2 separate regions of the Homo sapiens genome follow, and region 1 is linked to region 2. Evidence: fine-mapped expression QTL. A gene starts in region 2. The other region holds a variant in brackets. All regions are shown on one strand. Distances are between the middles of the regions.

What was found. PIP is the estimated chance that this variant, and not a neighbour inherited with it, causes the effect. A credible set is the group of variants that fine-mapping cannot tell apart.
Region 1: its variant is the best candidate, but not a certain one, in a credible set for the expression of DNAJA4 in whole blood (TOPMed, PIP 0.68).

What each region holds. Positions count from the first base shown.
Region 1 is chr15:77,942,116-77,953,202 of GRCh38, reverse strand. It overlaps the pseudogene COMMD4P1. Among named protein-coding and RNA genes, the nearest start is that of TBC1D2B, 130 kb to the left of the region's middle. RefSeq lists enhancers at 1,054-1,554, 8,482-8,776. The variant G/A (reference allele first, on the strand shown) is at 6,320.
Region 2 is chr15:78,258,204-78,269,290 of GRCh38, reverse strand. DNAJA4 (DnaJ heat shock protein family (Hsp40) member A4) reads right to left here and starts at 4,729. Exons shown (of 7, transcript NM_001130182.2): 1 at 4,396-4,729. The coding sequence starts at 4,527. It overlaps DNAJA4-DT (DNAJA4 divergent transcript), which reads left to right and starts at 5,147. Exons shown (of 4, transcript XR_001751621.1): 1 at 5,147-5,234; 2 at 5,334-5,419. RefSeq lists silencers at 4,196-4,485, 4,796-4,875.

The DNA of each region.
Region 1 (11,087 bases), 320 kb after region 2:
CTAGGTCCTCTGTCTGGACACCCTCACCCCCTGGTGGCCTCCACGTCAGTACCCACCAGCACCTCCTGTGGGCGAGGGCCGCCCCTGCATCCAGCCCTGGGCACCCCCTAGCCCAGAGGGCACCTCATGGTGTGAGAGTCCACCTGCCTGTCTCTAAAGAGAGGAAAGCTCCTTGGGACATGTGTTCTGCTTGACCCATCACCTCTGGCCTGGTACAGAAAGGTGGACAGTGGGTATTTGGTGAATAAATGAATGAATGATTGGAACGAACCCCCTAAATGGTGATTTCCTGAGGCCCTTCTCCAGCTGGCCCAGGTGGAACCAGTTCCACGTTTCACAGGAAAGCCAGGTGTGAGGAGTGGGGCAGGTGTGTGTGAGGGGCCAGGTTCTTGAAGGCTGCATGGAAACGGAGCTGGTGGCAGGTCTGGGGGTGGCAGTGCTGCTGTAGGAGCCTCAGGGAGGGCTCATCCCTGGAATCCCCCAGGGTATCCTAGTGCCCCCAGCTGCTGCATGGCATGAGAATTCCTGGCTGGTGGGGGACACACAAGGACTTGTTTGGATTGGCCACCTGGTCCAGCCCAAGGAGCTGCGCCTCCAGCACCTTGGGGGAAAAAAAGCACTTTTGATGTGTGACAACAGCTGCAGGCAAGGGGAGGGAGAGGTGTGCTGGGCCTCGGCCTTAGAAGCCAGAAGCCAGTTCATGCCCCTACTTGGTCTACGTGGGAAAGGGATGTGGCCTCGGCTAGCTCTAGGGTCCTGGGTTATGGAAAGGGCCCTTCCTTATGGACCCAGTGACTTAGGCTGACCCAGCCCCTCCCTGAGCCTCATCAGTGAAACCAGGGCTGGGCCAGGGCTCTCAACACCTCCCAGCTCCAACCTCTGGCTTTGTCCCAGGAGGGCAGGAGATCAGACAGAGGTGACCCGGGCTCCCTATTTACCTCAACCTCCTTGTGAAGCCTCCCTCTTTCTGCCTGTGAGGTGGGTGGGGCTGGAAAGAGGGGCATTCACCTGTGGGTCTCTGACTTCTCTGCCCAGGTGTGCCTGGGGAGTCTGGTCTATACCCGGTGCTCTGCTATACCCCACAGCCTGGTCACAACCTCCCTGCCTCCAGAGCAGCCCTGGCCCAGGGAAGAAGCGGGTCTCTGCATCCAATGATAGGTAGAAAATGAACGTGGGGATGATAGCACTGGAAAGGAGTCAAGGAGGAGGTGCCTTCCCAAGGATGTGGAGGGTTTTTCCAGAATGGAACTTGACTGGGGTGGGCAAACATCAGGAGGTGGGAAGGGTGGCTCCCTCTGTGGGAGCTGGGGCAACTTGCCTGGGCCAAATGGTGGTAGGCTGTGGGTGTAGGGTGGGCAGAGCTGGGGTGCCCAGAGCCTGGGGTCCCTGTCCTTGCAGAGGACTGGAATGCAAAACAAGTGCCCCCTGCCTTCTGGCTGCGGGACATCCTCTGCTTCCAAGCCCAGACATACACCTGCTGCCACAAGCCCCTGAGGCTCTTCAGAGGACCAATGGGCAGCCACACCCATGCTGGGCCAGCCTGCTGGGCCCACCTGCACCCTGGTCAGAGCCCATGACTGAGGGGACTCTCTGGGGGCAATGGGGGCAGTCCCATGCTGCCCTCTTACAGGTGGATCAGTCCCTGGGATCTGGTGCTGGGCTGGGGTGGGCTGAGGCTGTTCTCTGCTGGGGTACCTGGTGGACAGCAGGTGGAGCAACTTCTCCTTGGCTTTCCTGGACCCCAGGACACAGCTGAACACTGCACTCTACCCTGGATGCCTTCAGATGGGACCATGGGAAGGAAGAGGGGCTACCCCTGCAGGGGGCCAGGACCCTGGCCCATGCTTGCTCCCCGCAGCAGGCACCTCCTCTCCAGATTGACATCACCTGATTCCTGAAGGCCTGGGCTACTGGCCAGAGTCCCAACATCCTCACCAAGGTCTGTTTTTACATCAGAGCAGCTAGTACATGAGTTCGGAGCTGAAGGGGGCGGAGAGAGAACACAGGGCTCTGTTAAGAGTTCTTGGCTCCCTGCTGTGGTGGGCCCCGTAGAAGGCCCCCCAAAAATTTGCAGCTGCTATAAGTCACTGGGAGGAAGCTGCAGCAGACACGTGTTTCTCAGCCTGGTAGATGCAGAGGGGTGTCCGGACCCCCAACTGGGAGGCCCAAATGTGGCAGTGCAGGAATTCTAGCCAGCTCTGGGACCCTGGGCAAGTCATGTAACCTCTCAGAACCCCATTCCTGGTCACCATGGGGCTCTTGTGTGGATGTAAACAACCCTCAGGCCACTTATGTCCCATCAGTGGAAGCCTAGCATGGGTGGAGACCCCCGAGACTGAACTCAGTGGCGGGATCCAGCCTTCCCAGCTCTTCTACATAGAGCCCAGAGCTAGCAGGGTGGGCTGCCTGGAGAAGCAGGCACTCCTGTGGGCTGGAGAACATGAGCAGTGGTCCCTTTGGGAAGGTGGAAGAGGCTGTGGTCAGTGGAGGCCATAATGGGGCAGAGGTTGGGCAGAAGGGGCATGATCGGGGGATCTGAGACCCAATAGAGACTGGACTGAGGACTCTGTGCCACTCAGGCAGTGGAAACTGAGCTATGGCTGGGACCCATGGTCCTGAGTGAGGCCTGGCCAGTCTTGGAAGCTGTGCCAAAGGTGGCTTCATGTAAGGGTGCATCTGAGCACTTTTTTTTTTTTTTTTGAGATGGGGTCTTGCTCTGTCATCCAGGCTGGAATGCAGTGGCACGATCATAGCTTACTGCTGCCTCAAACTCCTGGGCTCAAGTGATTCTCCCACCTCAGCCTCCCAAAGCGCTCAAATTATAGGCCTGAGCTACAGAGCTGGGTTTTAAATCTTAATATCTCCTCCTGGTCTGCTTCCCTGGCTGACACACATGCTGGCATCTTGCGCCTAGACAAACATGTTTCTGGACTTGGTTCCATTTGTTCTGACGGGCTTCTCTCTCTCAATGACCGCACGTTACATTATTTGGCTATTCTTACACATTTCCGTATAGAACTGAGGGTTAGTGTATTAATGTCAAAGTTCTACTGGTTTTTCGAGGCTGGGTGGAATGTTTGGGTTAATTTAGTTGTGGGCATCTTGACAATATAGGCTTTTCCTCCAGGAATGGTGATTCTGGGACGCAGGTTTTGCACATTCTGGTTTATTGCTTGGCTCGCTGCCACAGAGGGATGGCACTGCTCCACACACCATGCCCTAGAGATGTCCCACCTTATCTGTCTAAATCAAGCTGGATGTTCTCAGCTGACAGGATATCATATCAGTGCTGTGGGGACTCACTCCCCTCAACCCGAGACGAAGTGAGGTGGAGACTATGGAGCAGATCCGTGCCGACTGCATTTGCCCTTCCTGACCCGCACTGCTGCTGGGTGGGGCTGTGTCTGAGCTGATAGAGGGCATTGATTTGGGCATGGGGAGGGGTCAGTACTGGAGAGATGCCCCTCACCTCCCTTAGCTCCTCCTGTCCACTCAACACTTGGTCACCAAGGCCCCTGACTTCCAGGCCTCAGTCACCACTAACGAGGTGCTGCATGGGAACAAAGCGTAGGCCCACAACCTGGAGTTCAGGTCACTCCTCCTTCCAGTTGAAGCCTCTATCCCTCCCAGGTGATTCCAGCCTCATTTCTCCATGGGCCAAATATCCTAAACAAAGGCCTGGACAGGGGGTCTTTATCCGAGTGCCCAAAAAGCACATGCAGAAAGGCTCTGCATGCCCCCTGTGGCCTGTCAGAGGTAAGAGCCTGCCCGTCAAAATGCACAATCCTGGTTCTTGCAGGGAGGTGAGGAGGGGAGGAAGAAAAGGTCCATCTCATTCCTTCAGCAGGAACCCAAACTTGGGAAAGCCAGACACAGTACATTTCTTAATGATCCTGACACTTTTATAACTGGTTACAGCTGGGTCACATGCACAACTGTTTTCCAACATCTTTCAATGGGCCACATAATACCTTGTAATTTTTTATTTTTATTTTTTAAGGCTGGGGGAGTGGCTCACACCTGTAATCTCAACATTTTCAGAGGCGGAGGGAGGAAGACTGCTTGAGGTTAGGAGTTTGAGACCAGCCTGGGCAACACAGCAAGACCCCATATGCAACAGAGAAAAACGCTGTCTCAAAAAAATTTTTTTTGAGTACAGTGGCATGATCACAGCTCACTGTAGCCTCCAGCTCCCGGGCTCAAGCGATACTCCCACCTTAGCAGCTGGGACTCTCAGAGCGCAGCACCACATCTGGTTAATTTTTTTATTTTTGGTAGAGATGCAGTCTATGTTTCCCACGCTGGTCTTGAACGCCTGGCCTCAAGAGATATTCCCAATGCGACCTCACAATGCACTGGGGTTGCAGGCATGAGCCACCATGCAGCCCCTGCAAAATCTAACTGTCCTTCAGGTGCTCCTTTTGGACCTCCTAGCTAGACTGCCATTGGCAAATGCCAGTTGATTATCCACCCACATGTATGTTAATGGATTTCCCATGTTTTATTTGTCTAGACCAGGCTTTCTCCACAGCAGCACTGTTGATGTTTAGGGCTGGACAGTTCTCTGTTCTGGAGCTGTTTGCGCCTCGCAGGATGTTTAGCAGCATCCCCAGCCTCCGCCTGCCACATGCCAGCAGCACTCCTCAGTGTGACAGCCAAAGTGATTTCAGATACTGTCAAATATCCCCAGGGCGGCAAAATCACCTCCAGTTGAGAACTGCTGACCTAAAACCCTCTGGAACAATGTTAGATCATGGTAATGATAGCGCATACTGCTCCTGACCTTAATGGGAATACCTCTAGCATCAAAGTATAGTAGTACCTGTATACTACTGTCTGGGCTGTTATTAGTACACTGTATTAGTCCATTCTCATGCTGCTATGAAGAAATACCCAAGACTGGGTAGTTTATAAAGAAAAGAGGTTTAAATTGACTCACAGTTCTGCATGGCCGGGGAGGCCTCAGGAAACTTACAATTATGGCAGAAGACACCTCTTCCCAGGGCAGCAGGAGAGAGAAGGAGAGCCGAGCAAAGGGGAAAGCCTATAATAAAACCAACAGATCTCGTGAGAACTCACTCACTATCACGAGAACAGCACGGGAGAAACTGCCCCCATGATTCAATTATCTCCACCTGGTCCCACCCTTGACACGTGGGGATTATTGCAATTCAAGGTGAGGTTTGGATGGGGACACAGAGCCAAACAATATCATATCCTTTATATTAGCATACTGTATCGAAGTATAATTTTCTTTCTTTTATTTTATTTTTTCTTTGAGACAGAGTCTCGCTCTGGCTCTGGCTGGAGTGCAGTGACACGATCTCAGCTCATGGCAACCTCTGCCTCACAGGTTCAATCAATTTTTGTGCCTCCACCTCTCAAGTAGCTGGAACTACAGGTGTGTGCCACCACACCCAGCTAATTTTGATTTTTTTTTTTTGAGTACATATGGGGTTCAACATGTTGGCCAGGCTGGTGTCAAATGCCTGGCCTCAAGTGATCCCATCAATACGACTTCCCGAAGTGCTGGGATTCCAGGCGTGAGCCACTGCATCCAGCCTGAAGTATAATTTTCACAATGTGAAAAGCTTGACTTTCATACAGATAATGAAGGAATATGTATAAGATATTTTCTTTAATTTACAAGGGAGTCAGCAACACGGTGAAGCTAGTTAGAGGAGCGTTTTGAGAGACAGTGTCTGTAGTGCTCCAGGAAGGGCATTCTGAAATGCATTCTGAGATAGAGACAAAACTTGTTAATATCCTATAGGCAGGCTGGGCATGGTGGCTCACACCTGTAATCCCAGCACTTTGGGAGGCCGAGGTGGGTGGATCACCTGAGGTCAGGAGTTCAAGACCAGCCTGGCCAACATGGTGAAACCCCGTCTCTACTAAAAATACAAAAATTAGCGAGGTGCGGTGCTGGGCGCTTGTAGTCCCAGCTACTTGGGAGGCTGAGGCAGGAGAATCACTTGAACCCGGGAGGTGGAGGCTGCAGTGAGCCGAGATCATGCCACTGCACTCTAGCCTGGGCGACAGAGCAAGATTCTGACTTAAAAAAAAATCATATTGGGAAATAAAAATGTCATCTTTGGGAGTTATCTTTTCTACTGGACAGAATTCTGTAAGTTAACATATATACATATTCTCCAGTATATTCACAACATATTCTGTAGTATATTTCCCTACACTACTGCTTTTCAAAGCATGGTCTCAAATTGGAAGCATCAGCGTCACCTGGGAACATAGACATGCAGTGCTTAGGCCCCCCCTCAGTCCTACTGAGTTAGAAACTCTGGTGTGAGGCCCAGCAGCC[G/A]GTTTCACAAGCCCTGCAGGGGATGATGATGCACTCTAATGTGTGAGGACCACTGCTCTAAATAGTCAATCTTTAATAGTAAAACAAGTATCTATGAAACAATGCTCCAGTATGACATTAAAAGGGCACACCATCCACCTTTTAACTTTATTTCTCAATTTAGATATTTTGTCTGATGTTAAATTTGCTGTTTTGTTTCTCAAATACTCTTAAGACAGTTTTCATCTGTTCCTAATTTTCTCTTTTTAAATAAAAAATGGTTTTCCAAATCTGTCCATTTTACTCTTCTTTAACCTATTGATAGGATGAAGTAAAAGTTACCTTTTTTTTTTTTGAGACGGAGTCTCACCCTGTTGCTCAAGCTGACTGAAATGCAGCGGTGCAATCTCGGCTCACTGCAGCCTCCATCTCCCGGGTTCAAGCGATTCTCGTGCCTCAGCCTCCCGAGTAGCTGGGATTACAGGCACCCGCCACCACGCCCAATTCATTTGTTTTTTTTTTTTTTAGTAGAGACAGGTTTTGCCATGTTGGCCAGGCTGGTCTCCAACTCCTGACCTCAAGTGATCTGCCTGCCTCAGCCTCCCAAAGTGCTAGGATTACAGGCATGAGCCACTGCGCCCAGCCATTTTTTTTTCTTTTTTCTGAGACGGTCTCCTTCTGTTGCTCAGGCTGGATGGAGTATAGTGGCGACATCATGGCTCACTGCAGCCTCCACCTCCCATGCTCAAGAGATCCTCCCACCTCAGCCTCTTAGGTAGCTGCGACGACACGTGTGCACCAGCAGAAGCAGCTAATTTTTTGTAGAGACCGGGGTCTCCCTATGTTGCCCAAGCTGGTCTAGAACTCGTGGGCTCAAGCGACCCACCGGCCTTAGCCTCCCAAAGTGTTATGATTACAGGTCTTATGTCCTTAAAGTTTTTCTTTGACATGGTATAGGATAGTCTAGTAACTTAACATACTGTGGTTTTCAACAGGCTAGTGCTTATGACTTGTAAAAGAACTCTTCAGAAATGAGCTCAATTTTACCATGAATTGGGACACTTTCCATTTCTTTCTATTCTATAGAGCAGTTTACTTGCCATGAGCTGTCTTTTGAAAACTTGAAAGCCTGCAGCAATAAAACCAGCTGCACCTGGTGCATGGGATAGGCATGGAATTGAGGAGAGAGTTCAAACTACGGTCAGCCCTCTGCATCCTCGGGTTCAAGATCCTTGGATTTAACCAACTGTGCATCAAAAATATTTGGAAAAAGTAAAACAATAAAAAGCAAAAAGTTATAAATACTTTATAACAGGTACTTACAAAGCACTTACATTGTATTAGGTATTATAGTAATCTAGAGATGATTTAAAATATACGGAAGGATGTGCATAGGTTATATGCAAATACTATGCCATATTATATCAGGGCCTTGAGCATCAGTGAATTTTGGTATCTCTGGGGTCCCGGAACCAATATCCTGAAGTTACTAAGGGATGACTGTCTTCAGTTTCTTCTTTGGTTATTAGTTTATTCTCTGATGTATTTTTGTTGTTGTTTTGTCTTTTTGTTTTTGCCTCTGCAAGTCAATGTCGGAAACTTAGTTGTTCCAGGCTACCATTAGCTCAGAGCTACCAGTAAGCAGACTACCACTGCAACCTAAGCAACCGATTTTTTCCCCCATCAGACTGGCAAAAATTAAGCATCTGTTGATGTTGAAGCTGTAGGGAGTTTTCCTGAGCATGTTAATTATGACAGCCCTTTTTGTTAGGCACCTAGACGATTCATCAAAATGAAATAAAATACCCATGCGCTTGAAGAAGTTATCTGGTTATTTCCTTATCTGGGTGCTGGTTATGTGAGGTGTACAGTTGATGAAAACTTATTAAGCTTTATATTTCTAATAGGTACAATTTTCTGTATGTGTAGTAGACTTCAATAGTTTTTAAAATGTCTTTTGCCACAGTCCGCAGCTGTGTATAATGCTATTCGCTTAACAGTGGAAAACATGACAATGACCTGAATCCCCCTGGCTCCCGGGATCCTACCCCCTTAAGTTAAACAAATGAAATAACTTCCACTGTCTTTCCTAATGCCTTAATTCGGTCCTCAGTTAAACTGACGGTGGATGCTGTTTTTTTCCAGGGAAGGATTCTGGGAGACGGAGGAGGAGACGCCAGCATTTCGCCCCCGGCACCTCCAGCGGGCTGCGGTCCGCTCCCGGCCTCACTCGAGCAGGCCCCGCCCTCCCAGAGGCCGTTAGTCCAAGTCAAGTGATCGTCGACTCAGTTGACCCTGTCGGACCGGAAAAAGAAATTCCCGGGCCCTGGCTTCCTGGTGCGATGATGAGGCACCAGGGGTGAAGCGAGGCATGGGCTGCTGGAGCGGGAATGAGGGGGCGCCAGTGGCTCCGGAAACGGGTGGAGGTTGTCTGCCCTGGCCTCTCCGCAAACAGTGTGTGCGGGCGTGAGAAAAGTCCACCGCTACTCCGCTCCCGAGACAGGGGCGGGGGTACGGGGCGGGTAAGACAGCGCAGGCCGGCCGGCTTAGAGTCCCCGTGCTTCCCTGGGGAAAGGAAGGGCCCCTGCCTCCCGGGGCAGGAACTAGGGCTTGTCTGGAGCTGGGAGTCCTTTCGGGTCTTCCCCAGCCACAAGAGGACCTCCCAAGGACACTCCCTTCCCCAGCCCTGCTGTGGGACTTAGACAAGAACGCGCTTAGAATTAGGATCACACTTCCACACTGTTAGGCAGCCCCTCCGCTGTTTCCAGAGTCAGAAAGTAGTAGTTTTGGGGTTGAGACTTATCCATCCATCCATCCAGTCCATCCATCCCTACGTTCTAAGCGCCTAGTCTATACCATGAAGTGTGCTAGGCACTGGGAGGACCTGAGCTGCTGAGGGAAGGGGAAATCGGAGCCTTGAATTGGAGTCATAGTCAAGGCTCCAGGGGCAGAGACCTAACTGCGCCTTGTGTGTAGTGCTAAGGGGGCTTCCTGAGGATGCCTTCAACCTTAAAGGCGGATGGATGGCAGGAGCTGGCTGGCTGAAGTACAGTTTGTGTACCAGGGGTTGGGAGGCAAGGGTGGGAGGCGTGTGTCTTCAGACAGGGAACAGCATGTGCAGAGACTTCAGGTTAGAGAGAGCATGACTCCCCAGGAATGAATGCATTTCCCATAGCTGAGAGAGTATTATCTGCAGGTTAGGGAAGGATGAGGCTGGACAAGTAAAGACCAAATCTTCCTGACTGTTGGATCACCACAATCAAGATAATGAAATATCCACCGGCCCCCAAAATTTCCTTGTGTGAGGGGCTATTTTAGGAAGTATCATCAAGAAGGGCGGGCCTGGCTGGGTACAGTGGCTCACGCCTGTAATCCCAGCACTTTGAGGGGCCGAAGTGTGCAGATGACCTGAGGTCAGGAGTTCAAGACCAGCATGGCCAACGTGGTGAAACCCTGTCTCTACTAAAAATACAAAAAAGCCGGGTGTGGTGGCACATGCCTGTAGTCTCAGCTACTTGGGAGGCTGAGGCAGGAGAACTGCTTGAAGCTGGGAGGCGGAGGTTGCAGTGAGCCAAGATTGTGGATTGTGCCATTGCACTCCAGCCTGGGCAACAGAGCGAGACTCCATCTTTAAAAAAAAAAAAAAAAAAGAGGGGCTGGTCTGATGAGGTGTCACTTGAGCAGAGAGTGGAATGAAATAAAGGATAGCAAGCCACGTAGAGAGTGCAGCAGGCATGGAGGCGGGAGCAAGGCTGGTGTCCCGGAGCAGCAGCAGGGAAGCCGGAGTGGCTGGACTTGTGTGGGTATGGGGAAGAGGGGAGAGAGGTCACTCATCTGTGTGAGGCACAGGACTTTGTTTTATCTCCTGCTGTACCCCCAGCTCTTAGAGTGGGAGCTAGCACAAAGAAAGGTGCTCAATTGATGTTTGCTGAGCAGATGAATGCCTGGAGTAGACCAAAGAGCAGGGTTTGGTGGCAGGGTGGGTCAGGGAGAGAGTTTACTCAATAGCCTGGTGATAGGGGAGAACAAATGGCCAGAGGGTGTCCATCTATGATGGGGACCAGGGGTCCTTGCTGGGCAGCAGTGTGGGAGACACACAGATCCTGGCCACACCTCAGCCTTCCCTCCAGCCTGATTACCTGACTCCCTCCCTTGCAGAGGTTCTGGTTCTGTGGTGATCTGGACTGTCCCGACTGGGTGCTGGCAGAGATCAGCACGCTGGCCAAGATGGTTGAGTGCACAGGGTGTAGTCTGAGTGGAGGAGGGGTGTTGGGGGTGGGGATTGTGGGTGTAGATGATGATGAGGTTTCTCTGGGGTTAGGGCCTCAGTGCTCTCAGCCTGTGCTACCATGCTTTGTGACCTTGATCAGTGGCTGGCCTGCTCTGAGCCAGTCCCCAGGAAGGAGGGGTGAGGTTTGCCAGCCTGGCTGATGTAAGGACTTCCCTTCCAGTCCTCTGTGAAGTTGCGGCTGCTCTGCAGCCAGGTACTAAAGGAGCTGCTGGGACAGGGGATTGATGTGAGTACAAGATCCAGCACCCCATTGTCCCATGCCCTTATGACCCCTCCTGCCCTGAAACTGCACTAGGCCCAGGGAGACGGGTGACCCGGCCTTGCAACCTCTCTGGGCACCTCCCATACTTCTTTCCAGCCTGTCTGTTCCTTATTGCAGGATCCAGGCTGTAGGTGAGGGGCTGGTGAGCAGGGGCCTGGCACCGCCTGAAGGTCTCCTTTCCCCATAGTATAAGAAGATCCTGAAACTCACGGCTGATGCCAAGTTTGGTGAGCACC
Region 2 (11,087 bases):
CCTCCGTGGTCTTCCATGTGCCCTCCTCACCCCAGCTTTCAGTGTGTTCTCCACTCGAGCCCACTAATTGGGTCGATCCTCTGCTCAAACCTCTACAAGGTGGCCCACGTCACTGGGAGTAAAAGCCAGTCCTAACTTTCATCTATAAGCCCAACTTGGCACCTGTACTTTCCTCTCCTCCTGTGTGTCCCCACCCCAATTCTATGCCAGTTTCAGCAGGCTCCCTGCTGTTCCTCAACTCTGCAGTCTGGGCCTCAGAGGCACCTCAGCCTGGTGCGGCCTCCCGACTCATCTCTTTCCAGCCTTAGCTCACAGACCACCTTCTCAGGGATGCCTCCTGGTGATCCAGCTTTAACACTGCAAACCCACCTCAGACCCTCCCAGCCCCCACAACTGCTGCATATTTCTCCATATCATGAACCACCTTCTAACAAGCTGCATCATCTACTGCTTATGCTGTAGCCCCCACTGCAACATAAGCTCCATGAAGATGGGGGGTTTTGTCCACTGCTGTCTAACTGAGCCTGGAACCATGCCTGGCATGTAGAAGGCACTTGGTAAATACCTGTTAGATGAATGGCTCGATTCTGGGAACTCAGAAATAAATAAATGAGGTAGGATCTTGGCCCTCCAGAGGCTACAGTTTAGTCGGAGAGACAAATATGGATATATAGATAAACAGATCCTATAATGCAGCTGGCTCCAAAAAATATTCAGGGAAAAAAAGTGCCATGAAATAAGGAATTTGAGAGAGAGAACAAGGGAATTTGAGGCATTAATTCCCTTGTTCTACAGATCCCTGATTGAAATCTAATAAGTAACCAATAATAATAGCTAATAAATAGCTAAAAAACTACAATTTAGAAAAGTCTTAAAAAGACATCAGCATCATATATAAGGCAGCTAGATCTTTTGATATGTTAATTCTCATACCATTTCTGCGAAGAAGTAAGTACCATTCACTACTATCCCTTTCCTCAGCAGAAAACATGAGGTAGAGTGTAAGGATTGGGTGCCTGGTACAGATCAGAAAGCAACTAGGCCAGGCTGCCCCTAGACAGTTTCTGCGTCTATCTGCAGGTCAGGACTAGGTAAATAACTTCATGGGAACGTCCACCGGAAACACTCACCAAATACCCTGGATACTCACATGTCATTTAGACTTAATAGAATGATCTAAGAATGGAAAAGGAGTACCCAGTTGCTTGGGACATTCAGTCAGAGGCCAGATCTCACATGGGATGGGGGTTCCAACTACCAGTAGGGAGTCCATCCTCTAGGGTCCCAGCACTCCAAAGTCTAATTCAGCTCCCGGCCCGGACCCCCTTCTCCCAGTGGGAGACGAGTGCTATGATGAGCTTGCCTTTCAGACCATGATCATTTGCCACAGAACCTTAACAGGATTACTATACAGCTGAGGGGAAAATGGCTTTGAAGACTACGTAACAACTTGGGAAAAGTACTTATAATAAAATATTAAGTGGAAACAAGAAAACAAAATGTCTATGTATCAGGATGGCCATGTATGATCATACTGGGGAAAGCTTGGAAAGAAGCACAGAGTGGTTAGGATAATGTGTACTTGGTAGGTTTCCCTCTGTGTTCTAAAATTTTCTGCATGGTTTGCTATGTTCTGATTTTTGAACTTGAAAGTCTATTATTCAAACTAAAAGTTACAATGAAATTGACCAAAAGACCAAACTCATCTCAACAGGGTAATAGCCAAGAATATACCCCACATCATTGCCCCTAAAAGGGACTATCTTGGTGACCCACTACCTACCACCCATGCATCTTGCAAAAAAAACAAAAAACAAAAAAAAAACACCCGCAGAGAAGTACAGACTCCATACAGAGTGCCCAAAAAACACAAGGTGCCCCAATGCTTAGCAACAGGGGACAACAGGGCAAAAAACAAAGACCAACATTTCAACGGCCTTCTCAGTTTTCCCAGCAAGGGGTAAAGAACTGGTGTAGTCTATTTTTGAAGAGACGTTAATAATACAGTGACGAACTTAGGAGGAAAAAAAAATTTAAAGGTTCTACCTGTGATAAAGTGGAAAAGAACTACACACACATACACACTCACATACACACTCACACACACACTCACACACTCACACACTCACATACACACTCACACACACACTCACATACACACTCACAAAAGGCCTGCACAGTGCACCCAGCACACAGTGGGGACCAGAAGAGGAGGTATTTGTTGAATGAATGAATGAATGAATGAATGAGCTCTCTCTGGGGAACTCTACAGCCGTTTCTATAAATTGTGTCCCCAGTCTCCTCATCCTCTTTGATTTCCGATCTAAATTGCCACTCTCCTCCCAATATCCCTTTCACTGCAATTTCCCTTCCAATTTGTGCCTTTATAGGGCCCTCTCCTCCTACACACAATTTTTTAAAGTGCATTTACTCAGCCAGCTAACAAACATTTTAGCACCTACCCTGCACAGCTAGATACTCACCCCATAAGTGGCCATGGGGGCACAGTCACTGCCCTGCTTACATTATGGCAGGTAATACAGTTATCAAACAAGTAATCACCATTAAAGGAATACAGTTAATCAAACAAGTAATCACCATTAAAGTAGGATGCACGTTGGGCCTGTGGTTCAGTCTATGAGGCAGAGGCAGCCTCCTGGAAGATGTTTTAGCTGAGAACTAAAGAGTTTTATCCCCTTCCATGAAGGTAGAGGAAGGAAAGTATTCCTGGCAATGGGCACATCACAGAACCCTTCCCTCCAAGCTGATGGGCCTGCCAGACCTCACTGCCAAGGGCCTCATTTATGTGACACTAACTCAGTGCCTGGCTATGAATAAATATTAGTTTAAAACAAACCAAACAACCTGCCCAGACAGGTATAGACAGGGTGAAACCTACACATATGTAGTACAGGTCAAGTCTAATTTTTTAAAAATAAAAGCTTCAGAACAAAAGCATATTCAGCTCTAACTGTATACACAGAGGCATGAACTTACTCTTGTGAGTGCTGAGATTTGACCTGAATCCAGGGTCAGGCTTTCCCACATGTCTTTAGCCAGCTTGCTGAAATGTGAAATTAGAAGCCTACAAGCTCTCCTTAAAGGAGACTGTCAGAAGCGGACCACAATGAATGTAGGGAGCAGGTGGATGAATCACCAGCACCATGTAAAACGCCAGTGCCTTTAAAAGCTACAGTAAGCCATCTAAATATAGATGAGAAAGAACGCAAGTGAGTAACAGACAAATGGTCTTACAGGAAAGCATTTTAAACTTGTGACAGCCACATTCAGCACATGTGGCTAAATATAAATATTCCATCACTGTTGCCATTCAGCCAACCGTCCTGAAGTAGCTTTCTCCAGCTTGGAACAACTAACACAGACAGGTATTTTGATTCCAGCGTCGTTTCCACAGGTCTTAAATGCTACATGGGTGATTGGTGTGGTTTCAAACGTGGCCCAAGTGACACTGCTATCAGCTACTATAACGGCCCCACCTCTCAAGACCCATGCGGAACAACCAAAGTTTTGTAAGAAAATGGCAAGAAGTGAAAGGAGGAACGGGAGGGTTAGCAGCCTTTCCTTGCAATGCCTCATCCTTCAATTCACCTATTCAGGTGGGTCATGAGCCTCTTTAGAGATAAAAAGCAAACTTTCTGTAAACAGGATGGAAAAGCTTTTAACTTCTGTCTCTAAAATGCAGAGCATTTTCAGTCTATGATTGGTACTTATGATCAACTGTGTGTCACTTGTCACCGAAAACCCAGAATATGAGTACAAGCTGATGTCAGGTTGCAGATGTCCGTGTCCCTGTTTAATAAAGAAAATGGGATTATTCACTATCTGACGCTTTTATCAGGTAGGCAGTAGGTGCACAGAACAAATCCAGCTAGTCATTCTCAAGAGAGGCACGGCGTTTGTCCAAGGTACCAGCTCAGATTAAAGACACTCATCCCTAGGGTTTATGCATCAACAGAGAATATGAGCCAGTCGTTCCCAGCAAGTAAACAACTGTTTGTGTGTGCCTCAGTTTCCCGATTCCCAGGCCGCCTCTCCCACAGGGAACCAACACACCCTATGAGAACTAGTCCGGCGCGCACGGCAGGGGCTACCCAAACACTTGTGGAGCGAATGGAGGAATGAATGGGCTCGGCAGGGACTCGCGAGGGACCCAAGTGCCGCACCACATGCCTCCTCCGCGGGCGAAGCGCCCTCCACCGACCGCGCCGCACGGCGCCCAGGGTCTCCCGCCACCTCTGCCCGGCCTGGCCCCGAGGCGCCTGGCGACAGCCTCCCCAACAAACGCGGCTCAGGTTTCCCGTCGCCTTCAATGCTCCTGGCTTAATAACCCTTGGCCCCTCGGGAGCCCGGCCCGTGCCCCGCGCCGCCCCGCACCTTCTCGCCCTCATCCGGGTTCTTGTCCGGGTGGTACTTGAGCGCCAGCTTCCGATAGGCCTTCTTGATCTCCTCCGGGGACGCGCTGGGCTTCACGCCCAGGATGTCATAGTACTGGGTCTCCTTCACCATCTTGTGTCTGCGGGGGGGGCGGGCGAGGCCGGTCAGAGCGCCCCGGACGCCCCTGCCGGCACCCTGGCCCGCGCCCCTGGCCCGCGCCCCCGCCGCCCGCTCGCGCGTCACGGTCACGGTCGCCGCCGCCGCCGCCGCTTGTAGCTCCCGCCCGCCCCCCGCCCCGCGCCGGACCGACTTCCACGCCTGGCTCCACCGCACTAGAGCCACCGGCTCCTCCGCGGCGGGTTTTATTCGGCGCCGGCGGAAGCTTCCGCAAGGAGACGGTGACGCCACAAAGGCCTAGAACCTTCGCGGAGGTTCCGGCGGCCCCGCGGCGGGTTCGCGGCCCAGACCCCCGACGCCCGTCCGGCGCGGCCCAGCCGCTCACCTGGGCTTCTCGGGCGTCTGCTCCTTTGGCTGCCCGTCTGATTCCCCGGAGCTCCAGCTCTGACTGCCGCCCCGGGCCATGGCGGGGGCCGGAGAAGGCGGCTTGGGCCTGGAGGGCGCCCTCCGACAACTGTCCCGCCGCCCCGAGGCCGCCCCCTTGCCCTTCCGTGGGTCCGTGGAGCCGGCTGGCTGGAGAGTAGGCGGCCTGGAGGGCTGTGTTGGCCGGAGCCCTGCGCCGAAGGGTGGGACTGGGAGAGCTGCGCCCTGCGGTCCCCACCCGGCCTCTCCCCGGGGGTGTGGCCGCCGTCTGTTCGGTCACAGCCAGGCTGCGGCCTAAGGTGTGCCTGGGATTGTTGCATTTTTTAGGGGGTTGGAGTGGGTAGGGGCCCTCTGCTGCCTCATGACTGCAAGGCTGAGGTGAACCTCTGGCCTTCCAGTTGAGGTACAGGGGTCCTTTGCTGGCCCCAGATGTGGACAGTATCCTCTCGAATGCCCACCACTGGGAACCCTTAAGTCCCTCAAGGTGAGCAGTGACGTCCCCCACATATGGGCAGTGACGCCCCCCAAGTCTGCCAAGGGCCGACAGTGCCCTCTCTTCTCCCAGAAGTGGGAAACTGCCCCCTCTCCTCTGCACATCATCAGTGAGCAAACATCAGGGCCCGACCAGGCTGTTGGGCCCAGTGTTATGCACAGGGGGTCCCATGGCCTGGACCCTGAAACGGCTAGGTGGCCCAGGATGCTTGCCTTGGAAGGGTACAGGAGTAGGTCCCGACTTCCCTAGGCTGCCCCCAGCTCCCAACGGGTGCTCAGGGAGTCCAGATCACAAACCGTTGCAGAAAAGTGGGCGTGGAAAGCAGGCCCCAACGCTATCACAGAATTGCAGGCCCCTGTCCCCTAGCCCTCCCTTGGCTTCTGCCAGGGGAACAGTTTGTCAGAAAGGGGGGTCACTGCTCACCTCCCTGGGATGCCCTGGCCTTGTTTTGGGTACTGTGGCTGAAGCAGGTACTACCTCTCCTCCATGTGTTCCATGGGGGTGAGAAGTGACTTGTACTGTACAAGAGAAATTAAGCTGCTCTTCTTGGAGATGTTGCTTTTTTTTTTTTTAAATTATGCCTTGTAGAGCAGAACCTTTAGGCAGAGAACTCAGAGCTAGAGGTCAGAAACTTTGTTTTCTATCCAGATCTTACTGTCTGAGCCTTAGCATCTCAACACTTTTCTTCGTCAGCAGGACATGGGGATTGCCACTTGCCTGCCTTTCTCACAGGGCTCTTATAAGCATCAAATGGGATGATAACTGTGAAGACTCCTAGCGCAGTGGGTCTCAAACCTGGCTCCTGACAGAGATCACCTGGAATCTTCTAAAAATCCCTCTGGGTTGCACTCCACACCTGTTACCTTAGAGCTTCTAGGGGTGAGGCCCAGGCATCAGTGTTTTTCAAGCTCCCCAGGTGGTACAGCCAGAGCCGAGATCCACTGCCCAGGGTCACATACTTGTCCAGATTTAGTACTCGGGACCATAGGCATTCGTAAAATGGGCATGTGCAGGAGAGGGATGGCTTAAAGACAGAGCCTAGAAACATAGAATGGAGCTATGCACTTTGGACGACAGTGAATTCTGGAACCAGTGAGACTTAGACCTAGGTTCAAATCCCAGCACTGCTACTTCTGGCTGTGGAACCTTGGGCAGACAACTTAACCTTTCTGAGCCTCAGTTTTCTTAACCTTTTAATGAGGATATTAATTATAACTACTTCATAACTTTGTGAAACACCTGGTATATAGTCACAATATTGATGCTTTTTGGGGGTGGGGGGGTGCGGGCAGGGGCTAAGGTATAGAAGCTGATAGTGATTCTCTTCTTGATGGAACTTAGCCAGGCTCCTATGAGCCCTCTTCTCAACTAGGCTTCAGTCTTGGCCTATAAAGACTGAACAGACAGCAACACAGTTTCTAATAATTCAACGTCACATCCTTAAGATCACCAGTTCCCAGGCTTTTTGGCACCAGAGACCAGTTTCATGGAAGACGATTTTGTCACGGACAGGGTGGTGGGGGTGGGCAATAATTCTATGATGAAGGCCTGGCGTGGTGGCTCACACCTGTAATCCCAGCACTTTGGGACGCCGAGGTGGGCAGATCACTTGAGGCCACGAGTTCAAGACCAGTCTGGCCAACTTGGTGAAACTCCATCTCTACTAAAAATACAAAAATTAGCCAGGGATGGTGGTGCTCGCCTGTAATCCCAGCTACTCAGGAGGCTGAGGCACAAGAATCGCTTGAACCCGGGAGGCAGAGGCTGCAGTGAGCTGAGATCACACCACTGCACTCCAGCCTGGGTGACAGAGCAAGACTCTGTCTCAAAAAATAAAAAATAAATAACAATAGGATTGTCTAGTAAAATCAGATATTTTTGGCCAGGTGTGGTGGCTCAGGCCTGTAATCCCAGCACTTTGGGAGGTCGAAGTGGGCAGATCACTTGAGCTCAAGAGTTTGAGACCAGCCTGGCCAACATGGTGAAACCCCGTCTCTACTAAAAATACAAAAATTAGCCAGGTGTGGTGGCACGTGCCTGTAATCCCAGCTACTCAGGAGGCTGAAATAGGAGAATCACTTAAACCCGGGAGGCAGAGGTTGCAGTGAGCTGAGACTGTGCTACTGCATGCCAGCCTGGGCAACAGAGAAAGACTCTATCTCAAAAAAGAAAAAAAAATGGAGGATGAAACTGTTCCACCTTAGATCATCAGGCGTTAGATTCTTATAAGGAGCATGCAACCTAGATCCCCCGCATGCACAGTTCACAGCAGATTTCAAGCTCCTGTGAGAATCTAATGCCACTGCTTGGTTCCTGACAGGCCACAGACCAGTACTGGTCCGCAGCCTAGGAGTTGGGGGCCCCTACCTAAGGTGACCCTGGCCCCACTACCCCCTCTTAAAGTGCCTGCCTGAGAAAACTCAAGGCTGCCAAAATATTTACTGTGTTTTTGTTTCATCCAACACCTGAGGATAGAGCTTCTGTCTCCCAGTCTCTTTGGGAGAACGGCATCCTAACTTTGGCAATTGGCAGCTAGCAGACACAGCTGGCCTAATGTCACTTACACTGACCAACCCTTTGTCATTTTTCACTTCCCTGATTCTGTTAAACTGCTGCTTGTCCTTCTCCCTATTCCCTCATGTTCTTTTCAAAATGCCCAATTACTTTTCGTACAAATCGATATTGAGCTCAGTTCATACTAGATTGTTTTCCCTATTGCAATAGTTATGACTGATTAAATTCTGTCCTTACAATTTTAACTACTGTTCAGCTTTGTTTATCTTAGACAAAGCCTCTGACAATCTAGTAGATTATTTCCCAGAATTATGCTTGGGAGGATTGGAGGCATTACACAGACATTTCTTATTTTGTCAGTTATGTGTTTATTTTCATGATGACCTTTTCATTACTGCAACTTTTATTAAAAGTGACACTGACTTTCCACTCACAGTAAGCAATGTATGGTTTCCTTTTTATATTCTTTTAAAAAAGAGTAGATAAATAGTAAGTGTATGATAGTACCTGTAGTACAAGAATAAAGCAACAGTGGTGATACTTGAATGACAGAAATTTGGGAAATGCTGATCCAGTTCTACCATCTCATTCTACAGTTGGGGAGACTTTTAGACAAAGAAGCCACATTATACAGAACAGCCATTGTCCCTTGATGCAGTGTGGGGCTTCCTTTCTGACCCAGTGTAGAAGGAGAGTCAAAGCAAGCACGGAAGTAGGTTTTACCCAAGGAATGCTGGGATGGGGTCTTCAAGGAGTCTTCTGAGAGGGAGAAGCCACACCTACCTGGGGAGGGGGGTCAGGAAGGACTTCATGGACGAGGGACATGTGCCATAGACCAGGAAGTTAGAGCTCCCTTTAGCAGCAGGGAAAGGGAGGGCAGCCATGCTGAACGGACAGCAGGATAAAGGCAGAGAGCACAGATGGATGAAGGCTCTGAATTGGAAGGGAAGCAGGGACAGGTGTGCTAGAGCCTTGAATGCCTTGAGGAGCAGTTTGCTGCTCTCCTGGGCCCTGGGGAGCCATTGAAGGTTTCAGAGCAGGACCTGCGTTCTGAGAGGTGTAACTAGCAGCAGACCCCGGGGGCTGGGTGGATCTGGACCTCCTGGGAGAGGCCCAAGCTGGGCATGCCGGTTTGTAGAGGCAAGCCCAGAGAGAGGGCATAGAAGGAGAAAGAGAGCTCCAAGGAAAAGCGTTGGGGAGCGCCTGTCTTTAGGAAGTGGAAGGAGCAACAGCCATCGGAGAAGCAAGAGGAGAACCCAGAAAGCAGAGAGGACCAAAATCATGCAAGGCCAGAGCAGCGAGGGGTAGAGGAGACAGTGCCTGGGTGGCAGAGAGGCTGGGAATGGGGGGGACCAGTACTTCAAGGGGAGGACATTAATTTATTGGCCCCCGAAACAGCAGTTGTCATTTCAGGCCATTGTTTTAATATTGGGAGGGATTTCCACTTGGAGAGGCCTTGCCCCTCACTGGCTGTGTGACCCTGGGCAAATTAGCTTTCTCTGAACATCCATTTCCTCCTTTGCAAAATGGGGATAAGAACATCTGCTTCACAGAATTATTGTACAGATGAATGGAGACAATGTGTAAAGGGCTTACCATGTGCAGAAAGCACGTGTTCTCACGATGAAATTTATTGATTTCATCACAACAGGATTTGTGCACAGCAGCTATGTGTCTGGCTCTGTGCTGGGAACCAACAATACAGCACTAGATTAAGGTTATGCCTGTCCTCGAGGAGCTCAGAGACTAGCTGCACCTCAACATCTGACTCCAACCACTTTGGGTGACCCCTAGCACGGGCTGATTTTGCTAGCATTCCAACCCATAGAATTTTCTAAGAACTCACACTGAAGTAGTTAACCGTTGCCACCTTGCTTGAACAATAAAACCTGAGCCCCTGGCTACATTCCTGTGGGTTAGGGCCTGGTCTCTGAGAAGTCACTTCTTCCTGGAACTTGGCCTTTACCCAGAGTTGCTGTCACCAGAGGTTGGGGCTGCCTCTGTTTGGGGAGAAAAAAACTAAGAAAGTGAGGGAGTGGTCATCCTGCCACATATTTGGGCTTTAGAGACAAAATTCTGAGGTTTTCTCATCAGGGCACCCATCTTTTGAGGTCCCAGAGTCCAGAGAGAAGACATCCCTCCATCCTTCCAACAGATATGTAAAGTGCCTTTTGTGTCCAGTGTTGCAAGAGGCTTTGGAGCACACCGGGGAACAGATCCTGTCTCCCCCACACAGAGGACAAGAAAAAATCTAGAAATAAAGCTCTAACTGTAGGAGCAAAGGAAAAGTGTCCTTTTGAATTCTGGGTGGTCAGAAGGAGGAGATGACCTTCGCATGAATCCTGGAGGTTGAGAAGGAGCCAGGCGTGCAGGACTCGGGTTAGGGAGTTCTAGGCACAGGCAACAGCACGTGTGAAGGCCGCAAGGTGTGAAGAACCAGAAAGGAACCAGTGTTTCTGGAACAGTGATGGAGAGGGGGCATGGCCTTCAGGGCAGAGTGGGATTTTATCCTTAGGGCAGCAAAGGTGGGGGGTGTACTTTAAAATTTTTGTTGTATATTTATTTCATAAATTTTATTTTTTTAACTTTATTTCAGCAATATCTCTATGTTGTTACAGACAACATCTTTGCATACTTTGTGTTCTATTTTCAGTAATGCCAGATTATAAAACATTTCTTGAGTCATTGTAGCTCTCAGTTTCAATTTGGAGACATTTTGCTCCTCTGAGGCATAGCAAAATCCTCAAAGCAGTCCTTAGATTCAGAAATGAACCATGGATTTTATATGCTTGAATGTCGTAATGGAGTCTCATAAGATAATTGAGAGTTACTGTAGAAATATTACAAATATTTTAATTCCATCATATAATAGCTATCAGTTTTTTTAAAAAAAAAGTTTATAAAAACAGCTGACACACAATGAATTGCACCTATTTAAAGTGTACTGCTTGATCAGTTTCGATATATGTATATACCCATGAAACCACCATCTTAATCGAGACGTGAGCGTATCTATTGCTCCCAAAAATATCCTCATGAAAGAGTATATATTTAAAAGCCTGCTCAAGCTTGTATTGGTCTGCAGTTAAGCTGGGGCCACAGGCCTGTTCTGCTGTCTCCTAGTTTGTTTTTTTCCAGAAAATAA